Linked DNA regions of Homo sapiens. The protein of the gene in region 2 purifies or fractionates together with the protein of the main gene of each other region. This does not show direct contact. Each region holds a gene or a part of one and is shown on either strand. Other genes may lie near its edges.

What was found.
Region 1: the proteins of NQO2 (region 2) and ELMO2 fractionate together in Homo sapiens (co-fractionation; one large-scale study listed by BioGRID). This does not show direct contact.
Region 3: the proteins of NQO2 (region 2) and CRAT fractionate together in Homo sapiens (co-fractionation; one large-scale study listed by BioGRID). This does not show direct contact.
Region 4: the proteins of NQO2 (region 2) and PPP2R3A purify together in Homo sapiens (co-immunoprecipitation; one large-scale study listed by IntAct). This does not show direct contact.
Region 5: the proteins of NQO2 (region 2) and PARS2 purify together in Homo sapiens (affinity purification with mass spectrometry; one large-scale study listed by BioGRID and IntAct). This does not show direct contact.

The regions. Positions count from the first base shown.
Region 1 is NC_000020.11:46,371,430-46,376,030, reverse strand, and holds part of ELMO2 (engulfment and cell motility protein 2), read left to right. Parts: intron 1-240; coding exon 241-363; intron 364-660; coding exon 661-795; intron 796-1,390; coding exon 1,391-1,495; intron 1,496-1,590; coding exon 1,591-1,699; intron 1,700-2,495; coding exon 2,496-2,632; intron 2,633-4,061; coding exon 4,062-4,225; intron 4,226-4,339; coding exon 4,340-4,452; intron 4,453-4,571; coding exon 4,572-4,601. UniProt on the Homo sapiens protein: Involved in cytoskeletal rearrangements required for phagocytosis of apoptotic cells and cell motility. Acts in association with DOCK1 and CRK. Was initially proposed to be required in complex with DOCK1 to activate Rac Rho small GTPases.
Region 2 is NC_000006.12:3,012,788-3,017,388, forward strand, and holds part of NQO2 (ribosyldihydronicotinamide dehydrogenase [quinone]), read left to right. Parts: intron 1-2,742; coding exon 2,743-2,856; intron 2,857-4,096; coding exon 4,097-4,198; intron 4,199-4,601. UniProt on the Homo sapiens protein: The enzyme apparently serves as a quinone reductase in connection with conjugation reactions of hydroquinones involved in detoxification pathways as well as in biosynthetic processes such as the vitamin K-dependent gamma-carboxylation of glutamate residues in prothrombin synthesis.
Region 3 is NC_000009.12:129,096,893-129,101,243, reverse strand, and holds part of CRAT (carnitine O-acetyltransferase), read left to right. Parts: intron 1-554; coding exon 555-733; intron 734-1,277; coding exon 1,278-1,378; intron 1,379-2,593; coding exon 2,594-2,713; intron 2,714-2,872; coding exon 2,873-2,995; intron 2,996-3,095; coding exon 3,096-3,231; intron 3,232-3,931; coding exon 3,932-3,994; intron 3,995-4,351. UniProt on the Homo sapiens protein: Catalyzes the reversible transfer of acyl groups from carnitine to coenzyme A (CoA) and regulates the acyl-CoA/CoA ratio. Also plays a crucial role in the transport of fatty acids for beta-oxidation.
Region 4 is NC_000003.12:135,963,893-135,968,940, forward strand, and holds the start of PPP2R3A (serine/threonine-protein phosphatase 2A regulatory subunit B'' subunit alpha), read left to right. Parts: upstream 1-1,835; 5' UTR 1,836-1,957; intron 1,958-2,105; exon of another isoform or gene 2,106-2,736; intron 2,737-5,048. UniProt on the Homo sapiens protein: The B regulatory subunit might modulate substrate selectivity and catalytic activity, and might also direct the localization of the catalytic enzyme to a particular subcellular compartment.
Region 5 is NC_000001.11:54,758,961-54,761,523, reverse strand, and holds part of PARS2 (probable proline--tRNA ligase, mitochondrial precursor), read left to right. Parts: intron 1-2,333; 5' UTR 2,334-2,362; coding exon 2,363-2,563. UniProt on the Homo sapiens protein: Mitochondrial aminoacyl-tRNA synthetase that catalyzes the specific attachment of the proline amino acid (aa) to the homologous transfer RNA (tRNA), further participating in protein synthesis.

The DNA.
Region 1 (4,601 bases), on a different chromosome or scaffold from region 2:
TGCTTCCCCTGCCCAGGGGAATGCAGAGGAAGGGATGGCGCCTTTCAGGCCTGCAGTGAGTCATCTCTGCCTGAACCAAGCCCATTCATGCTCCATCGCCTTCTAGAATATGAAGTCCTCGTGTGTGGGAGGAAAGCTCTGTTCCCTTCCCAACATACATTCCTTTTCCTTAGCATGGATGTGGCCCTTCATTAAAAGAGATCAGTTCAGTCCCCTGCTCCCTGCCTGTGCTTTTTCTAGCATGTGATCCGAGGGAACCGCCCCATCAAAACTGAGATGGCCCATCAGCTATATGTCCTTCAAGTCCTAACCTTTAACCTTCTGGAAGAAAGGATGATGACCAAGATGGACCCCAATGACCAGGTAGGTGCTAAGTGGGGCAGCTGTTTTCTCATGGCTGTGGTGCAGTCCAGCCTTAGTCTATGTGCCAGGCACTGTGCTTGGTCTTTGTCTGCAGAAGTAGTTTGCATCTGCCCTAGAAAATCTAGCATGATCTGCACCATGAGCCAAGCCCATTTCTGTCCTGCTGTGGTAGAGGTGATGCCTCCTAAGGGATTGATTGGGGCCAAAGTTTGGCCCAGAAAAGCCTGACCCACTGTTTCTTTTCCTTGCTCCCTTGGTTAGCCGATTCACCTGCTGACTGTCTGTTTCACCTCGCAGGCTCAAAGGGACATCATATTTGAACTGAGGAGGATTGCATTTGACGCAGAGTCTGATCCTAGCAATGCCCCTGGGAGTGGGACCGAAAAACGCAAAGCCATGTACACAAAGGACTACAAAATGCTGGGATTTACCGTAAGTACCTCAGAGCATAGACGGTGGTAGGCCCTCTCCCCTGATGGGAAGTCAATGGTCCCACCCAGACAGAGCTCTGACAACCAACCCCATGGTGGCCCTGGAATAGATGACAGTTAGGAAGCTGGTGGAGCTTTAATGCTTGCTTTGCTTTGTTGATGGTGAGTCTGTGAGTTTATGTGCAAAGTTTGGCCCTGTGAAACGAATCCATCTGTAGGGGGGTTGCGGTCAGCTAGAGTGGGTAGAGAGGGGACCTGTCCTCTTACCCAAACTGCTAGGTTCTTTGCAAAGCTAGTGTGAATATTTTGTGATAGAGTAGGGCTTGAGGATGGGGTTAACTGGAAGAAGTATTTCTTGCGTACCTACTCAGTGTGCAGCAGCATGTGAAGTAGGTTCTGGGATGCATGGTGAGGCAGCCACCGTCCAGCACTCAAGAGCTCACAGTTCAGTGGTGGTGATGGGTGTGAAAAGAGCTAGGACAGAGGTGGGTGCTGAGTGGTAGCAGCATCAAGAGGAGAGGCGAGAGGGCATCCCCTCAGGTCCCTGCATACACGGAGACTGCCGCATCTCAAATTGGGTGTCTTTATTTCTCTAGAACCACATCAATCCAGCCATGGACTTTACCCAGACTCCTCCTGGAATGCTGGCCTTGGACAACATGCTGTACTTGGCTAAAGTCCACCAGGACACCTACATCCGGGTAAAGGCAGGGGAGCTGGCCTTCTCAGTCCTGGTGCCACATCTCCTGCCTTCCTCCTTCATCTCCCTAATCCTCCCTTTCTCTTCCCCCGACAGATTGTCTTGGAGAACAGTAGCCGGGAAGACAAACATGAATGCCCCTTTGGCCGCAGTGCCATTGAGCTCACCAAAATGCTCTGTGAAATCCTGCAGGTTGGGGAACTACGTAAGTCTCTGCAGCTCCCTCTTCTTCAGCCATTCCTTGTCATCAAGAGCTCAGTGAGACTCAAAATTATAAACAGTTACATGTCAGTGGGGTCGGGCGTGGTGGTTCACACCTGTAATCTCAGCACTTTGGGAGACTGAGGCAGGAGGATCACTTGAGCCCAGGAGTCCAAAACCAGTCTGGGCAACATAGTGAGACCCCATCTCTAAAAAAAAAAAAAAAAAAAAAAAAAACCAAAAATTAGCCAACTGGTAGTGCATGCCTCTGGTCCCAACTACTCAGGAAGCTGAGGCAGGAGGATCACTGTGTCAGGAGGTCAAGGCTATGGTGAGCATAGTCATGCCACTGCATTCCAGCCTGGGCGACAGAGTGAGACTCTATCTTAAAAAAAAAAAAAAAAAAAAGATGTCAGTGGGACTAGACAACCTTAGGTGGGTTTTTAATTTTGTTTTTTGTTTTAAATCACTGCATCAGCTGATAATTCCATCTTATCCTTATTTATGGGAATCATGGTTGTTGCTTTGTTTGAACTGGCAATTTGAATCATATTCCAAAGCTACCCCATGCCTGTGGGTAAGGGCTGGCTGAGTCTGTAACAGGGTAGAGGGAAGGCAAGAAAATGCACCCTGGAGAAGAAAGCTAAGGACGTGAGAAACGCCCATCCCACGCTCCCTGTTAATTGCGCGCCTTAGGCTGCTTTTGTTCCTCGGGACTTTGGTGCAAAGTTTCCAGACATGAGCTCCCAGGCCCTTGTGGACAGAGGCTTCATCTTCTCCCTGTTTTTTCACTTCCACAGCAAATGAAGGACGCAATGACTACCACCCGATGTTCTTTACCCATGACCGAGCCTTTGAAGAGCTCTTTGGAATCTGCATCCAGCTGTTGAACAAGACCTGGAAGGAGATGAGGGCAACAGCAGAGGACTTCAACAAGGTCAGTGTCTCCGGGCTGCTCTGAGGCCCACGGGAGGAGACCATCACACGACAGCCTTTGACAGCTGGCTGGCACCTGGAGAATCCCTGAGCTGGAAAAGCAGCTTGGTCTGCAGAACTGAGTCACAAGACTGAGGCACTGGGGAGCCTCAGCCCCATCTGGTTGTTGCTCCCTCTGTGACCTTGAGCTTGTCTTCCACTTGGTGCCGTAGGCCCTCATTTGTCCATTGAAGTTAGCACCTGTCCCTCCCGTCCTCCAGAGAGGTCAGGAGGATAAGCATTAGAAGACTCACTGTGGTTTATTGAGTGCTTACTGTGCAGGTACTGCTGTAGTTTTGTGAACTGGGAAGGTTAGGAGAGAAGAGTGGACTGGCATGATGTGCACACCCTGGGTACTTAATCGATAGTTATCCCTCGGTGCTTTCAGTCCTCACTCTATGCAGAGCACTGTTGTGCCAGGCCCTCAAAAGCTGATCATCTAGGGGTCGAGTGTTTTGAAGTTGATCATCTCATCATAAAAAATTTGGAAAGTATAAAGAATAAAAAGTTACCTGTATTTACACCATCCAGTGACAAACATTTTTGTTTTCCTCTAGTCTTTTTTATCCCCTACAGGTTTTTCCTTCATTAGCAAGATCATACTGCGCATGCAGTGTGGTATCCTGTTGTTTTCTTTAATAGTTGTTTTAAGGGGACCAATGCATTTTTTTAAAACACCACAGCGTGCCAGAACTGCGCTTGCCTTTCTATTCTTTTGTTTGTTTTTTTGAGACAGAGTTTCACTCTTGTCACCCAGGCTGGAGTGCAGTGGCACTGTCTCGGCTCACTGCAACCTCCACCTCCGAGGTTGAAGTGATCCTTCTACTTCAGCCTCCTGAGTAGCTGGGACTACAGGCGTGAGCCACCACACCTGGCTAATTTTTGTATTTTTAGTAGAGACGGGGTTTCACCATGTTGGCCAGGCTGGTCTCAAACTCCTGACCTCAGGTGATCCGCCTGCCTCAGCCTCCCAAAGCATGAGCTACTGCAACCGGCTGGTATCTCATATTCTTTATGGCAACACCTATCAGGAGATGTGTCTTCCTTTCTCTCGGTTTAGAGATGAGTAGATGCACACCTAAGGATGTTAAGTGACTTGCTGAAGGGACAGAGTCAAGATGTGAACCCATTTCTTTCTGACTACAAAAATCCATGCTCATTTCCCCCACACCATTGACCAATTGAAATATATGGGAAATAAAGCATCTATCAGTGTCAGTCATGTGACCTGAATAACCATCTAAGAAGGTATACCTTACTCACCCAGCAGATGTCTGTAGTGCCTGCCCTGCTCAAGACCCTGGGGCAGGAAAGAGCCTTGGTGCTCCATAATAGGCCTGTCCATTTCTCAAGAGTAGTGGTGTGAGTTGGCTGGGTTCTTCTCCTCTTAGGTTATGCAAGTCGTCCGAGAGCAAATCACTCGAGCTTTGCCCTCCAAACCCAACTCTTTGGATCAGTTCAAGAGCAAATTGCGTAGCCTGAGTTACTCTGAGATTCTACGACTGCGCCAGTCTGAGAGGATGAGTCAGGATGACTTCCAGTCCCCGCCAATTGTGTAAGTTCCATCTCAGGGGAGGCTGGCGGGGGAGGTGGCTGCCAGCTCTGCTTTCCTTCCAGAGCTCCACTGTCCCCATGACCTTCCGCTCACTCCAGTGTGTGTCCACCCCAGGGAGCTGAGGGAGAAGATCCAGCCCGAGATCCTTGAGCTGATCAAGCAGCAGCGCCTGAACCGGCTCTGTGAGGGCAGCAGCTTCCGAAAGATTGGGAACCGCCGAAGGCAAGGTGAGAGGAGACGGGGCAATCCTTGGTGCCGGGAAGAGCCTGCCTGGATGGCCCCTTTTGTGCCCAGGCCTTTCCCAGTACTGTCGTTGCTCACCTGTTTGGCTTCCCTTGTGTTCCAGAACGGTTCTGGTACTGCCGGTTGGCACTGA
Region 2 (4,601 bases):
TGCACACTTACTGAGCAAATATTGTAACCTGGTTACAACACCTAGTTACAACATTTCACCTAGTTACACCACTTCACCTAGTTACAACACTTCACCTAGTTACAACACTTCATCTAGTTACAACACTACTTTAAACACTGTACGTAGATGTAACACTACTTTTTTTTTTTTTTTTTTTTTTTTTTTGAGACGGAGTCTCGCTCTGTCGCCCAGGCTGGAGTGCAGTGGCGGGATCTCGGCTCACTGCAAGCTCCGCCTCCCGGGTTCACGCCATTCTCCCGCCTCAGCCTCCCGAGTAGCTGGGACTACAGGCGCCCGCCACCACGCCCGGCTAGTTTTTTGTATTTTTAGTAGAGACCGGGTTTCACCGTGTTAGCCAGGATGGTCTCGATCTCCTGACCTCGTGATCCACCCGCCTCGGCCTCCCAAAGTGCTGGGATTACAGGCGTGAGCCACCGCGCCCGGCCGATGTAACACTACTTTAAACACTTTACCTAATTGGGTAAAGATATCCACGTAGCCAATATCACTCACTCCAAATCCCGACTGCCATGTAAATAGGAATGAAGGATATTTCCATTATTCCAGTGGTCCAAGAATCATCTGAAACCTGCCAGTCTTGTTGCTTCCCTTCTCTTCCCGTTCCTGCCCTGAGACATTCTGGGGCTGCTTGAGAACCACATTTATCTGCACAAATGTTTATCAGGGTAAATCAGGCCAAATGCATCTCCTTAAATATCCTGCCTTAAATATCCTGATCATTAAGAGGAAAATCTCTGGTTTCTACCCTCTCAGTGGTTGCTTCACCCCCAGCCCAGCCACCTTCCTGTATTTGTTCACAAGGAGGTGATGCCACTGCAGAGTGAACTGGCCCAGCAAAATGCCCTCCAGGAGTGCTGACTCATCAGGCCACTTCCCGCCACTGCAAGGAAGATGTGCAGGCATGGCTGTGGCTGTGTAAACCTGGCAGCAGAGTACGCACATGAGCTTTGAGGGAATTGTTGGGTGACAGAAATTCCTGTCCAACTAGAAGGAAAGGGGAATCTATTATAAGGGCTCTGGTCACTTGGGCCTCCTGGATCCCAAGGACAGAGCTGTAGCTGCTCTCGTCCACAGATTCCCATCTGCTCCTTTCTGCCTCTTGGCTCTGTTCTCTCTCACTGCTTGCCAGGGACTGGATCCCCTAGATCCAGAATTTCCAACCAAGGGATCTGATTGGTTCAGATCATTTCTGTTTTCCAACCCTGCTTGAGGATGCGGAGTGGGCAGGAGAACGAGAGCACTGTTCGCATGAGTCCGCCATGTGAGGGCAAGGCAGGGGGTGAGCGGCATGTGACCACTTTCCAGACAAAACCACCTTTCCAGAATGATGAGGTTCCCAAGCCTTCATAAAAGCAACCTGCATGTGCGGGAAGAGGGCTGCCTCATCCCTGCCCAGGCTTGCCTCTGCACACCCCTTCCCGACACCAGCCCTTTCTTTACTCAGTGACCTTGAGCTGCTAATCTGACCAAAGTGCAGGACGTCCTTTGTCCTAATTACAGGTGGGTGGACTCATAGTCCTCAGGCCTAGGTGACCATGTGGTTTACCATCTCCGTCTTAATACCATGCCAGTATGACGGGCCTGTATCCTGGGGTGCGTGGTCCCAGCAGAGCCACGCTGAGCTCTCTGCTCTGCTTCTCCTGTCCCCCTTGGGTCGGCCGGCCACGTGGAGCCCGCTTTCCTCCTCGCACCCACTCCACTCCCATAACCCGGTGGCTGGGTAGGCTAAGACCTGGCCTTTCTATAATGGCCTTTCTTTTGTTTCACTTCATTTCACTCCATTTCCCTACTTTCCCTTTTTTTCTGATAGTTTGTCCAGAGGGTCTGCATTATAAGTTATTCTTTTATTCAACATTAATAAAAATTTCATTCATCACTACTGCACTACTAATATCAGAGCCCACCACTCACTGAGCATTGATTCTGTTTTGGGCACTGTGGTGTGTCTTCGAATCCTCACCAGGATGCTGTGAGCTGTGAACTATTAGTAGCCCTATTTGATGAATCAGGAAAAAGGAGGCACAGGGAGGTCAAGTAACTTGCCAATGTCACACAGCAGCAGGTCGTGGAGCTTGGGTTTCAATGCCAAGTCCTGAGTTTGTTTTATATGGAAAGCACAAGAGACATTGGCTTCCACCTTTGGTAACAGATGATTGCCTATGTTTATTTCCCTTCCCAGGCGGTAACACTGGATGTAATGTTAGGGCATCTATGGGATAGGGAGATCTTAGCGCTGGTCTAAGGAATACAAACATGACTTTAGTTGGTGTCTAAATCCATAGATGCTCAGCACCGAACTCAGTCTGACTTCCAGATGCTAACAACACACCCCAGGCAGGCGAAGGGGCATGCTTTTCCATACTCTTCCTTTTGACTGGCTTGATCACAGACTGCTGCTCCAAAGCTGGTGTTACGCACAGCTCCTCGTCCCCTCCCTGCCTGCCCAGGGCCAGCATCAGGGGCTGTCATCACTGGGGGATGCAGAGCTACCTGTAACAGCAACAAGGACCATTGTCAACTCCGTTCCCGTCTGACACCCACACTGCACCTTTCAGAGCTGACCATAAGGGTTACCCTCACCTGCCCAGCTGCCAGGGAAGAGGAGGGCTGTGGGCTTCATTCCGAATCACCAGATAAACTAAACTAGGAAACCTGAGGCGAGCCGCAGCCTCAGTTTCTCTTTGGTGTTGCCGCCCACAGTTCCCGCTGTACTGGTTCAGCGTGCCAGCCATCCTGAAGGGCTGGATGGATAGGGTGCTGTGCCAGGGCTTTGCCTTTGACATCCCAGGATTCTACGATTCCGGTTTGCTCCAGGTATGTGCTCTTGGATAAGGATCACTATGGATAGTTGGAGGGAGGGGACAGAGGATGCGTCTTCTATCAAGTTATATTTCTAGTTTCCTTCCTTTTCTTAGCAAATATCGATTGAGCACCCACTATGTACAAAGCACCATGTGCTGCACACGGGTGGACACAGCATCGTTTCTGAAATCATGGAGCTTTTTGTCTGGTGGGGCTGCGAACACATCCACAGCATACTACACGCATGGCAAACAAGGGAGTGGGTCAGGTGTCAGGTGACGGGGGACCTGGGCAACCTTATGTGGGCAACCCGGTGGCCAGCCCTGGCTCCAGAGAGAGTATCTCCCTGGTGCAGAGCCCAGCCCTGGCCTGGCACAAGTTCACCCCCTTGAGCATCATGTGCCTGCTGTGAGAAAAGACCATGCGACACCCACGTGGCAGGATGAGGAGGGCATGGAATCTGGTAGATGTGCCACATGTGGTAGCTATGAATTCTTACTAAAACAATGATTTTTAAGGCTGGGTGCAGTGGCTCACGCCTGTAATCCCAGCAATTTGGGAGGCCGAGGAGGGTGGATCACTTGAGGCCAGGAGTTCAAGACCAGCCTGGCCGACATGGTGAAACCCCATCTCTACTAAAAATACAAAAATTAGCCGGGCATGGTGGTAGGCGCCTGTAGTCCCAGCTACTTGGGAGGCCGAGGCAGGAGACTGGTTTGAACCTGGGAGGTGGAGGTTGCAGTGAGCCAAAATCGCACCATTGCATTCCAGCCTGGGTGACAAAGCGAGACTCTGTCTCAAAAAAAAAAAAAAAAAAAAGGAACGATTTTTAAATTCTAAAAGCTTCAGAAAATAAATGCACGTAAGGGAAACATACTGAGTAACCAAGATGTGTCTTGGACCATGAATGGTGCTACCACTTACTGAGCAGCCCTGTGTGCTGGGAACCTTGTCCTGTGGTCAGTGCCTCGGCCGTATCCATCACACATGGTGTCATGGAAACCAGGTTTCCACCAGCAACCTGGGCATGTTAGAGCTTCTGTGTCTGCTTGGTCCATTCACTTGGATTGTCTCCTCCTCCTCTTGGGATGTCATTGTCACCTATGGATGGGAGTGTTGCATTTGTCCATCCCTGGAGGGTGTCCACACGCATGTTCCCTGCTGGCTGTGCTGAGCCCGTGTGCTGGAGGCTCAGCAACATTTCTGTCCTCTTCTGGAGTCCACACAAATGCATCTGCTTTCTCCCTTGCAGGGTAAACTAGCGCTCCTTTCCGTAACCACGGGAGGCACGGCCGAGATGTACACGAAGACAGGAGTCAATGGAGATTCTCGATACTTCCTGTGGCCACTCCAGGTAGACCAGCTGCGAGTGGCTCCCTTGCTTGTTGGCACACGCACACACAGACACACACATGCACACATGCATACACACACACACGCACACACATACATGCCCTCAGCTCCCCGAGGGGTGAGATGAGATGGGATGGAAGCGTGATGCCCCACACCATTTTGACTCCCCTGGATACAAGAAAATTATAACATTTTGCCCCTTTTAAATGCTTTACTTGACAGATTTGAAAAGCTTGACCAATAGGGAAAACATGCCCTAATTATAGCTTTTGATATGGTTTGGGCAGAAGCTAAGCCAAACCTGCTTAGCTTGGTCAGCAGAATGGCCCCAAGGTGGCCCTGCGTGTGTTGTGATACGTGCGGGTGGAGGCCATCCATATGGCTCTGGCAGTGCTTGGTGAGGG
Region 3 (4,351 bases), on a different chromosome or scaffold from region 2:
GACATGTTTCCCGCTGCATCCTCTCAACGTGGAGCAGGCAATGTGGGCCCCATGTCCTAGTTGAGGACACCTCATGGTTAGGGTAGTTTCTCTCAGCTAAATAGCAAGTTAGGATTAGAGTCCAAGTCCTCTGGCTGAGAAGCCCACCCGCCTCCACACCCCCTGTGCCCCCAAGTACCAGCAGTCCTCCAAAGCATGTCTTGCTCAGGGGCATTGACCCCAAAGTCAGACCACCTGTGTGGGTTCCCCGGCTGCCACACCAGCTCCCATGTGACCCCTGGGCTTCGGTTTCCTGTGTCTAAAGTGGGCCAGGTGTTGGGCCCTGCCTCGAGGAGTGCTGTGGGCCTGCAGGGTCCTGTTGAGTTCGAAGCTCTGAACCCACACCCTGCACTTGGTGAATGCCCTGGAGGGCCGGCGAGGTGGGGGGTCTCCTCATCCCAGAGAGGTACAAATGGGTCAGAAGAGCCCAGGGCAGGAGGCTGCGGAGGGGCTGGTCCATCTCTCCCACACCATGAGACCCCATTTTGCGTCTCCCCGCCCCATGCCACCTGCAGACAAGGTGAACCGGGATTCCGTGCGCTCCATCCAGAAGAGCATCTTCACCGTGTGCCTAGATGCAACCATGCCCAGGGTCTCAGAAGACGTGTACCGCAGCCACGTGGCAGGCCAGATGCTGCATGGGGGCGGCAGCAGGCTCAACAGCGGCAACCGCTGGTTCGACAAGACGCTGCAGGTGAGGCCCGGCAGGGCTTCGCCCACTCACACACACCTGAACAGGACCTCTGCAGCCTCGGGACTTCCTGCCCGTCCCCGGCCCTGCGTCCCCAGCCTCCTAGCTTGTAAAGCAGGCAGGAAGCCAGCAGGCTGGACGCTGCCGTAATTACCAGGCAGCCAGCCTGTCATCACCAGTCCTGCCTCTGGCCTGGAAACCGCTGTCACCCCCAGCACACCCCCTCAGCACCTCACAGAGAACCTGGGATCCGGGGTCACCAGTGCAATCCTGGCACAACAGTCCCTCTCCACACCTGTAAAATGGGGTGATGGTCAACCTCACCGGTAGAGTAGTTTGAAGGACTCAGTCAGGCACGCTGAGCGTGGGATGTGCTTAGCACACCAGGGCACCTGGTGAGTGTCAGCTATTGTTAATAACAGTAATAAGTCATCATAGCCCCTTGAGATGGCTTCAGAGAGGCCCTTGCCTCAACCAAAGAGTGGTTGGGTGAGGGGCCACCCCCCAGGGCCCTGGGGCTGACCGGGGTCTCCCTTCCCTTCCACAGTTCATCGTGGCAGAAGATGGCTCCTGTGGGCTTGTGTACGAGCATGCTGCAGCGGAGGGGCCCCCTATTGTCACCCTTCTGGACTATGTCATCGAGTACACGTGAGTACAGTCACATCTCTCGCCTAGTTCCCCAGCTTCTAGTGACAGGTGACACACAGGTGATAGACCAGCTTATAGAGAAATATCACTCTCCTTTGTGCCTGGGAATCTGTTTTTTTCCAAGGAAGCCAGCCAGATATGGTGGCTCACGCCTGTAATCCTGACACTTTGGGAGGCTGAGGTGGGAGGATCAATTGAGGTCAGGAGTTTGAGATCAGCCTGGCCAACATGGTGAAATGCCATCTCTACTAAAAATACAAAAAAAAAAAAAATTACCCAGGTGTGGTATCACATGCCTATAATCCCAGTTACTCAGGAGGCTGAGGCAGGAGAATTGCTTGAACCCAGGAGGCAGAGGTTGCGTTGAGCGGAGACTGTGCCACTGCACTCCAGCCTGGGTGACAGAGCAAGACTCTGTCTCAAAAAAAAAAAAAAAAAATTAGGCCAGGTGCAGTGGCTCATGCCTATAATCCCAGCACTTTGGGAGGCGGATCACCTGAGGTCAGGAGTTCAAGACCAGCCTGGCCAACATGGTGAAACCCTGTCTCTACAAAAATTAGCCAGGCATGATGGCGGGTGCCTGTAATCCCAGCTACTTGGGAGGCTGAGGCAGGAGAATCGCTTGAACCCGGGAGGCAGAGGTTGCAGTGAGCTGAGATCACACCATTGCACTCTAGCCTGGGTGACAGAATGAGACTCTGTTTCAAAAAAAAAAAAAAAAAAGTTAGCCACGCGTGGTGGTGGGTGCCTGTAATCCCAGCTACTCAAGAGGCTAAGGCACAAGAATCACTTGAACCCAGGAGGTGGAGGTTGCAGTGAGCCGAGATCGTTCCATTGCTCCAGCCTGGGTGACAGAGCAAGACTCTGTCTCAAAAGAAAAAGAAAAAAATTAGCCAAGGTGGCGGGCATCTGTAATCCCAGCTACTCAGGAGGCTGAGGCAGGAGAATCGCTTGAACCAGGGAGGCCAAGGTTGCAGTGAGCTGAGATCACATCACTGCACTCCAGCCTGGGCAACAGAGCAAGACTCCATCTAAAAAAAAAAAAAAAAGAAAAAAGAAAAAAAAGCTGAAGTGAGGGTGGTTTTCAGAACAAACTCACACCTCCCTGGGCTGGCCCCCTCCAGCTTCAGGTACCCATCCTCCCCACCCTGGTCCCAGAATGGACCCAGGCTCTAGAGGCACCAGCATGAGCCTGAGGCCCCGTTTACTGTGCAGGAAGAAACCCGAGCTTGTGCGGTCTCCCCTGGTGCCCCTGCCCATGCCCAAGAAGCTGCGGTTCAACATCACCCCCGAGATCAAGAGCGACATCGAGAAGGCCAAGCAGAACCTCAGCATGTAAGTGCCTGCCCCCGCCATCCCTGTGCTGGATGGGTGAGGCCAGGCCCTTGAGCTTGAGAGGCTCCTGTGCCAGCTCTGTCATGACACCCAGACCCTCCGTGGGGTTGGCAGGGGCTGCCGGGGCCTGCTCCTCACCTGCTCTTCCCACACCCCCAGCATGATCCAGGACCTGGATATCACCGTGATGGTGTTCCACCATTTTGGAAAAGACTTCCCCAAGTCGGAGAAGCTAAGCCCAGATGCCTTCATCCAGATGGCTTTGCAGCTGGCCTACTACAGGTGCGCCTCTGTGGCCCACCCATGGAGGAGGGAGGAGACCTGGGGGCAGGGGAGGGGGTGCCCGCCTCCAAGGGGCGTGCTTAGCCCCATTTCCCACCAGGATCTACGGACAGGCATGTGCCACCTATGAAAGTGCCTCCCTGCGCATGTTTCACCTGGGCCGCACCGACACCATCCGCTCGGCTTCCATGGACTCACTCACCTTTGTCAAGGCCATGGATGACTCCAGCGTCACGGTGAGAGGTCTGGGGCGAGGGTGGGTGAGCTGGGCCTGAGCCCCTCCCTCCTGCTCACTCAGTCAACACACAATAATTGAGCACCTACAGGATTCCAGCCCCATGGTGGGCACGGGGAATCTAACAGAAGCTGGAGCCGTGAATCTAGCTCTGAGCTTCCTGGGGACCAAAGAGGAAAAGGGAGTCATTCATTTGTTCATTCATTTATTCATTGGCAGTAAGCAACTGCCCTATGTCAGGCCCTGGCTGAGGACCAAGGAGTTGGTAGTTGCAATACTCGCTCTTTTTTTTTCTTGTTTTTTTTTAGAAAGAGTCTCACTCTGTTGCCCAGGCTGGAGTGCAGTGGTGTGATCTCGACTCACTGCAACCTCCACCTCCCGGGTTCAAGCAATCCTCCTGCCTCAGCCTCCCAAGTAGCTGGGACTACAGGTGCCTGCCACCATGCCCGGCTAATTTTTGTATTTTTAGTAGAAACGGGATTTCACCATGTTGGCCAGGCTGGTCTCAAACTCCTGACCTCAAGGGATCCACCTGCCTCGGCCTCCCAAAGTGCTGGGATTACAGGCGTGAGCCACCGCTCCCAGCCCCAATATTTCCTCTTAAAGAGCTCAGAATCTAGTGCTGGGTGGGGGTGGGCTACTGAGGTGGGCCAGAAGAGAAGGGACAGTGCTTCAGCTCCCTCTGACCCTCACCACTCTAGGAGCACCAGAAGGTGGAGCTGCTGCGGAAGGCCGTGCAGGCCCACCGAGGCTACACCGACCGGGTAAGTGAGCCCGCTTGTGCCTACTCACTTGTCCCTTAGTGTCAGCCATCTGTCTGTCCCTCTGACTGTCCGTCCCTGCAGCCAATGGCTGCCAACCCTTTGCTAGGACCACATCTCCCCCAACCTGGGAGCACCTGGAGCCAGGCTGAATAGCCCCCAACTTTTTCTTTTTTTTTTTTTTTGAGATGGAGTCTTGCTCTGTCGCCCAGGCTGGAGTGCAGTGGTGTGATTTAGGCTCACTGCAACCTCCGCCTCCCAGGTTCAAGCAATTCTCCTGCCTCAGCCTCCCAAGTAGCTGGGATTACAGGCACCCACCACCACACCTGGCTAATTTTTCCATTTTTAGTAGAAACAGGG
Region 4 (5,048 bases), on a different chromosome or scaffold from region 2:
CTGGCCTCAGGTGATCCACCCTCCTTGGCCTCCCAAAGTGCTGGGATTTCAAGCGTGAGCCACCACGCCCAGCCCCTGTATCTTCTTTATTTTATATCATTTGTATTCCTACCACCTAGTACAGTCTGAGTACTCAATACATTGTGGTGAATTGGCAACTCTCTAGCCCCAATTCACCATGGTCCTCATGACAGAGAGACTAACTCTATTGTATTGAATCAAATTTCCAGTCACGTATTGTGTCCTTTATACATTCAAGTTATAATGTGTATAAATGCATGGCAAAAGGGCCAAAGGAGCCCTAATGTAAAAACATTGGCAATAAAACTGTTGAGACAAACCAAGAATCCAGGTTGCCAGGGTCAGCAGTTTTAACATTGTTTTATGGTACATTGTGTACTTTTCCTTCTTACTGATATGCATTGCACTGTGACCTTTGCAGAGTCCTATCCTGCCCTGCATTTTTCACAGAGTTGCTCTCAGTCTCAAATAAGATACCATATGCATGTGAAAGGGCTTTTGAAATGGAAAAGCAGTAGAAAGTTGAAAGTAAAATGGTCTCTTTCTCTCTAGGGCATCAAGGCATCTCACAGAGCACACTTTAGCTACTGGGAGGATTGACCTTGGGTGAAATTTCAGTATGTAAAGCTTGTTTGGGGTTATCTTACATAATTTTTTCTTTCCTTGTGCTATACACACACACACACATATATGTGCATATATGTACAATGCACATATATACACACACACATATGGCACCTAGTATATGCTTGGTGCTATGCTAGGTGCTGGGGAGACAGTGAGAACAACCCAGGTGCCCAGGACCTGTCCTCACAGCCCACCTAATCCTTTTAAGTCTTTACATACCTCCCATCCCCCACCCCCATGCTCCTTACTCATGGTATTCAACCCAACTGATTGACTTATTTATTGTTATTTATATGCTTATATATTTATAGATTTATCATTTTATCAAGATTTTTACGAAGATACTCAATTGGAGGTTCCTAATTCTGGAGAAATTTCCATTTTACAAATATATTCTTGGAGAGGGCATGATTATGGACCTGTCACATTTGAGTACTGTGGCAGTTAGAAGGAGGGCAATTTTGGGAGGCCCTTCCAGGCTATGTCCTTCCAGCTATTAATGAGGTTCTGTTTCAGAGCAGACCATATTACACGGTGTTATTAATAAATCTGGCGAGTGGTTATAAGGGTGTGTGTATCGGAATAATCCATTAAGCTGTACATTGGTTTTATATGGCTGTCTATATTTGTGTTTTATTTAACAGTAACAGTTAACAATAACAGTTAAAAATAAGTATCACTTCTTTTAAAATTCACACAACTTCTTGGGCTGAGTGAAATGTGGCGCAGGTGCAGGACTGTGGGAAGACAGGAGCGCCAGGGAATGTCTGGCCAGCAGCGCGCTGCCCTCAAGGGGCCTCCTTGAAGGCCCCTTGAAGAGGGCAACACAACTAATGACGATAACAATAACAACGATGACAATATTGACGATGACAATAACAGTAATAAATCCGAGCAAGAGACTCGAATCTGTCAAACAGCAGCGACCACCACGAATCGCATCCCCGCGGCGCCGCCATACAGGAGACTGCCCTCGCCGAGGCCACAGCGGCTCTCGCGGCGCCCCTGGAGGCCCCCTTCCTGCCTTGGCCAGAGGGGCGGGGCGTAGGCTGGGGGCGGGGCCGGAGAGTGGGCGGGGCCTGGCGCGTGGGCGGGGCTCCGGGCGGGCCGGCCGCCGAGGGTGGGGCCGAGGAGGAGGAGGAGGAGGAGGAGAAGGAGGTAGGGGCCTGCGGGTGGCTGGGCGGGGCGCGCTCGGGCCTCCGCTCTTCACGCGCCGCATTCGTAGCCCGAGAGTCCGCGCCGCGGGGAGGCTTGGAGGCAAGCGCTGCCCGCGAGCTGAGCCGCCGGAGGAGGAGCCGCGGGCAACGAGGTAGGCAAAGGAACACTGGCCGCACGGCCTGGAGCCTTCAGCTCCCTCGTCCCGGCCCGAGGGGGTGGCGAGGCTCGGGGCGGCGCGCGGAGGCCGGGGCGGGCGGGGCCGGGACCTGGGGGCGGGGACCGGCCTGGCCAGAGGGGCCACACGGAGCTGATTGGGCTGTGGAAGTCGGAATTCCAGTCGGTGCGGTGCGGTGCGGTGCGTTGCCTCGGCGCGGCCGGCCGGTCCCGGGACACGGCACCAGGGAGGTGTGGAAATTGCCTGCCCCAGGGGCGCCCGCGGAGGAGGGTAGGCGGGGGCGGCCTGGGCCCTCCCACTTTTCAGGGCTCCTGGGCCAGTTCGCCCGCACAGCCCTCGGGAACTTGTTAACAGGAAAGCCTGGCAGAGAAACAAATGCCAGCGTTTTGGAAGAACTGAGAGTCACGTCGTTAGGCGCTGAGGCTTTCTTTTCCTTCCCCGCCCCCTGCCCAACCTCGGCCCGACTTGGCCAAAGAAGGATGTGTCACCAGCTCCGGGCCGCGGACGGGATTCCCGGCCCGCCAGGAGCCGGGGTACCTGAAACAAAGGTAAACGGAGGCCGGGCGGCCCCTGGTCCTGCACCGCGGCCGCGCTGGAGCGCCTCGGTGGGTCTCTCCCGCGCCGACCTGGCCGCCGCCGCCGCGGAGGGGCGTTCTCCTGGGGGACCTCTCGATGGAAACCAGCTGGCCGGGCTTGGAGTTGATGTTGCATCCGAACTCTGTTGTGCTCCCGTTATTCCCAGTCCTCCCACTCTGGTAAAGCTTAAGGAAATTTTATCCAGTCTTGGTGGTCAGCAAATGTAGGGGAAGACAAATTATTGTTTGTAAATTATAAGGTATTTTCTAATTAGGAAATGGCCTGAAAACATTAAATTCTTAACACGTAAGCAAAAAAAGAGTAATTCCTTCCAACATCTGAGGAAGTATTCCTCCTCAAATCTTCATTTATGTACAAAACATCCCCCACACCTTTGGTGCCAGGCATTTTTCTTTGTTCTTCCTTAGTCTCAGGCCTTAGTTTCTTGTAAACAGAACCCAGCGCCTAGACCCTAAGAATTGCCATACTAGGTCAGAGCATGGGCGTCCAGTTCAGTAGGCAGCCGGCTTGTGTTGTAGTAAAACTGTTGTTTTTTTTTCTTGGTGGTATGTTAAAAATTATCTCAGTTTCTTTCAGTAGTCCATGAAAGCCTTTTAAAAATTTTCTAAGCCACTGCTAATTTACACACACAATTTATTTACATTTATTGCATCCAAATGGCCCTTTTATCACCTCTGGCAGAAGAACTTAATGGCATGAGATACTTGTGGAAAAAAACTTAGATCTTTTATACAATCTAGGAGCTCAGAAATCTAGGAGATTTCTAGGAGAACGGGGAAACAGATCAAAAAGGTTTTTAAAAAACAAAGCTTTGGGAAAGTGTTACTGGGGCCAATCTGGCTGTTGAGTTCAAAAATAGCTTTATGCACTGACAACCTGAACATTGAGCAGTTAAAGATTTATTTGTACTCATAAGTATTTGCATATTTTAAAATGTAGCTTAACATTCTGGAGAGTGAAGGGCCTATCTGACTTTATCTTGGGCTGAATTAATTTGGCCTTAATGTTCAGCTGAAACCAGCTACTCTGAGAGAATGGAAGTTTTGTTTCAGCGAGAAAGGAAAAAAGGAAATGAATAATTTTGGAGTATAGGGTACTTGGGGGCACCTGTTCAAATCATAACTTTGCTTTTAAACTCTTCAGAGACTCCTCCTTGCTCCTGACAAACATAGTCCCCACTGATCTGGCCCCTGTTACCTTTCAAACACACAGCTGAAGCTTCACCTCTGCCCTGAAGCTTTGCTTGACACCCCCCATCCCCCAAAAAGAAAACAGATATTTAAAAATCACCACCCTCAGAAGTGCAATTGACAGCTCTTTTGAGTGTTATCGTCCTCTGAGTCAGAGTTTCTCATTTGTAGTTCTGTTGACATTTTAGGCCAGGTAATTTCTAGTTGTGGAGGGCTATCATGTGCAGCGTAGGATGTTTAGCAGCATTTCTAACCTTTACTGAGGAATAGATACCAGTAGCACTCCACACACACAGTTGTGAACATCAAAAATGCTTACAGACATCGCAAATGTCCCCCAGGAGGACCAAAATCACCCTTAGTTAAGAACCACTGTTGTGAGCAGACTGCTGCCTTAACACTAGTGACGCAGCATTGTCCTCATTTGCTTAGGTGTTTACTATACTAAGCTTGAGGGCGGGAACAGTTATTTATTTAACAGATTTCTGAAGGCCTGTTTTGCCAACTGGACACTAGATTAGGTATGGAAATAGATTAGTAAAAACAACTTTGCATGCCTGGACCTTATAGTCTAAGGAGGGTGACAGATGTATACATGCATAAATATACATTTATCTCATTACGATTGTGTTAATTTCTGGGAGAAGTACAGGCAGCTCTGAGTGCATAAAACAGATGTCCTGATGTAGTTTGGAAACTGGGGAAAGTTTCCATGGGGAAGTGACCTTTGAGGTGGACGGTGAAGGATTAACAGGAGTTACTAGGTGAAGCTCACGGGAACAATATTCCGGGCAGAAGGAACAGATGTGAATACCTTGAGGAAGAAAGGAACAGGGCCGCTTTTGGGAACCCAGAAGCCAGGAACACGGAGAGTGATGACACAAAATGAAGCTAGGAAAATAGGCAAAGGCTGTCCACTAAGCAGTGGTTCTCAGTCCAACACTCTCATCAGAACCACCAGAACTTAAGACCGACGCCTGGGCCCTCCTCCAAGCAAATCAGAGCATTTTTGGTGGGTTCTGCTCCCTCCCCCAGCTACCATTTTCCCTGTCTTCCAAAGGAATAACCACTGATACTAGTTTTGTATATCATTGTAGACATTTTTTGTGGGCATTCAAGGAAATGCATATCTTTCCTCTTACTGTTTTACACAAATGGTAGCATACTGTACACTCTGTTTTCTTAAAAATGTCTTGGGAATCTTTCCACTTCAGTATATAGTTTCCTTATTTTTTTGAATGACTGTACAGTATTTCACTGTATGGATATACCATAGATTA
Region 5 (2,563 bases), on a different chromosome or scaffold from region 2:
ACAAAAAAAGCCTTCTCTTCATTGTAGATTATGTATAACAGAGAAAACCAACTACTGATTTTTGATGTAATCAGTGGAATGTCGTACTGCCATTAGAAATGTGTGATTATTTTGTAAAATCAGAGAAACATACTTGCCTATTGGACAATGTCTAGTAAGCCCCTGTCATGTGCTGAAGATACAGTGGTGAGCAAGCTAGACAGGTCCTTGCTTGCACTGAGCCAAGTGTCAGGGAGAAGACAGACAGCCAAATGGGCAGGAACCCTAGGAGACAAGTGGGCTATGCGGGAAAAGCCAGCCCTTTGGGGGTATGGGGAGTGGGACAAGAAAGGCTTCCTGGGGAGAGGATGGTAATCCTGAGGCCTAGAGGACGGCTAGATGTTGGCAGGAAAAGGGGAGAGGGGTGTTCTGTGCAAAAGGGACAGTATGTTTAAGAATGGGCATGGGGCCGGGCGCAGTGGCTCACACCTGTAATCCCAGCACTTTGGGAGGCCGAGGCAGTTGGATCACGAGGTCAGGAGGTCGAGACCATCCTGGCTAACACGGTGAAACCCCGTCTCTACTAAAGATACAAAAAAATTAGCGGGCATGGTGGCGGGTGCCTGTAGTCCCAGTTACTCGGGAGGCTGAGGCAGGAGAATGGCGTGAACCCGGGAGGCAGAGCTTGCAGTGAGCCCAGATCGCGCCACTACATTCCAGCCTGGGTGACAGAGCGAGACTCCGTCTCAAAAAAAAAAAAGAGTGGGCGTGGCAAAGCCTGATCAGAGAGGGGGCAGTGGTGAGATGAGGCCCAAGGGGGTCAGCTTATGTGGGGCTGTGCACACCCTGAAAGTCAGAAGCTTAGACCTTATTCTAAGGGTAGCAGGAGGCCGTTATAACCAAGAAAAGCTGTTAGCATCTGTGCTTGGGAAGTCTCCCCTGTGGCTGCAGTATAGAGAATGGATTGAAGGAGGGCAGGAGTGGAAGTCAGGAGACCAGTGGGGAGGCTGTTGCAACCATCCAGGTGAGAGATGAGGGTGGCCTGGACCTGGGCGGAGGCTGTAGAGAGAAGAGGGACAGATTGAACAGCAAGTGAAGAGGTAGGAATGACAGGGCCAAGAGGGCTGTGAACGTGGGACACAGAGAGGAGCAGAGCAGGCGAACCCCACATTCTGGTTTGGGCAAAGTGCAACTTTTGGTGCTATTCACAATGACAGGCAGTGCTGGAGGGGGAGTAGGTTTGCGGGGAGAATGCTGAGTTCATTCTGGGACACAGAGTTTTGAAGTACCTACCTGATGTATTCTCCAGGAGGCAGGTGGAGATTTTGAGTCAGCTCTCAGCATGCAGGCTGTCCAGGGAGTGTGTGCTGTAAAGAGGGAAGAGGCCCATGACATTTAAATATTGGGGGCAGGTAGAGGAACAAGAGAGGGATGTGCAAAGGACAGGGTTTGCAAGAGACAGATGGCAACAAAACGTCAGCTGCAGTTGACTCCAGGCTGAGGGATTACAGTTGATTTTCTTTTCCTTTTTTTTTTTCTTTGAGACAGAGTCTCACTGTGTTACCCAGGCTGGAATGCAGTGGCGTAGTCTCAGCTCACTGCAACCTCCACCTCCCAGGTTCAAGTGATTCTCCTGCCTCAGCCTCCCAAGTAGCTGGGATTACAGGCGTGTCACCATGCCCAGCTAATTTTTGTGTTTTTAGTAGAGACAGGGTTTCGCCATGTTGGTCAGGCTGGTCTCAAACTCCTGACCTCAGGTGATCTGCCCATCTTGGCCTCCCAAAATGCTGGAATCACAGACATAAGCCACCATGCCCAGCCTTCTTTTCTTTTTTGTTTTCAGATTTCCCCCCTAGTTTTCTATAATAATAATAGCAGACATTAGTTGAGCTCATAGTACATGCCAGATACTGTTCCAAGAACTTTTATAACTCTTCTAAGTGTCCACAATAAGCCTAGAAGGTAGGTTCTGTTGTTATTACCATTTTACAGATGAAGAAACAGCACAGAGGGGTTAAGACACATGTCCCCAGCTACACAGGGTGCAGCCATTGGGAGGCCTGACTGGAATCCAGGCTGCCTGATTCCAGAGCCTGTGCACTCACTACATGACGCTGTCTCTCCACAGGATGTTGTTAATGTTTTTATAATCAGGAAAATATTGATTTTTCAAAAACGGAAGTAAGAGGTTAGAGAAATAGTGCTTTGATCTGCTAGGATATTAGAAATGGAAGGATTTGTATCTGCAAAATCAGTGGCTGCCTTCGAAGTTTGTTGAGAGCAGGCTGGGTTGGCTGCTTCATGGTGTTGGAACACGGATGAGGCTCATTCTCACACAACTCATTTTTCCTCAGGTGCCTGTGCTTCCCGGTGCCAGGGTGTCATGGAAGGGCTGCTGACAAGATGCAGAGCATTGCCCGCCCTGGCCACCTGCAGCCGCCAGCTCTCTGGGTATGTTCCTTGCAGGTTTCACCACTGTGCCCCAAGAAGAGGGCGGCGCCTGCTGCTGTCTCGTGTGTTCCAGCCACAGAACCTTCGGGAAGACCGGGTGCTCTCCCTGCAGGACAAATCTGATGACCTGACC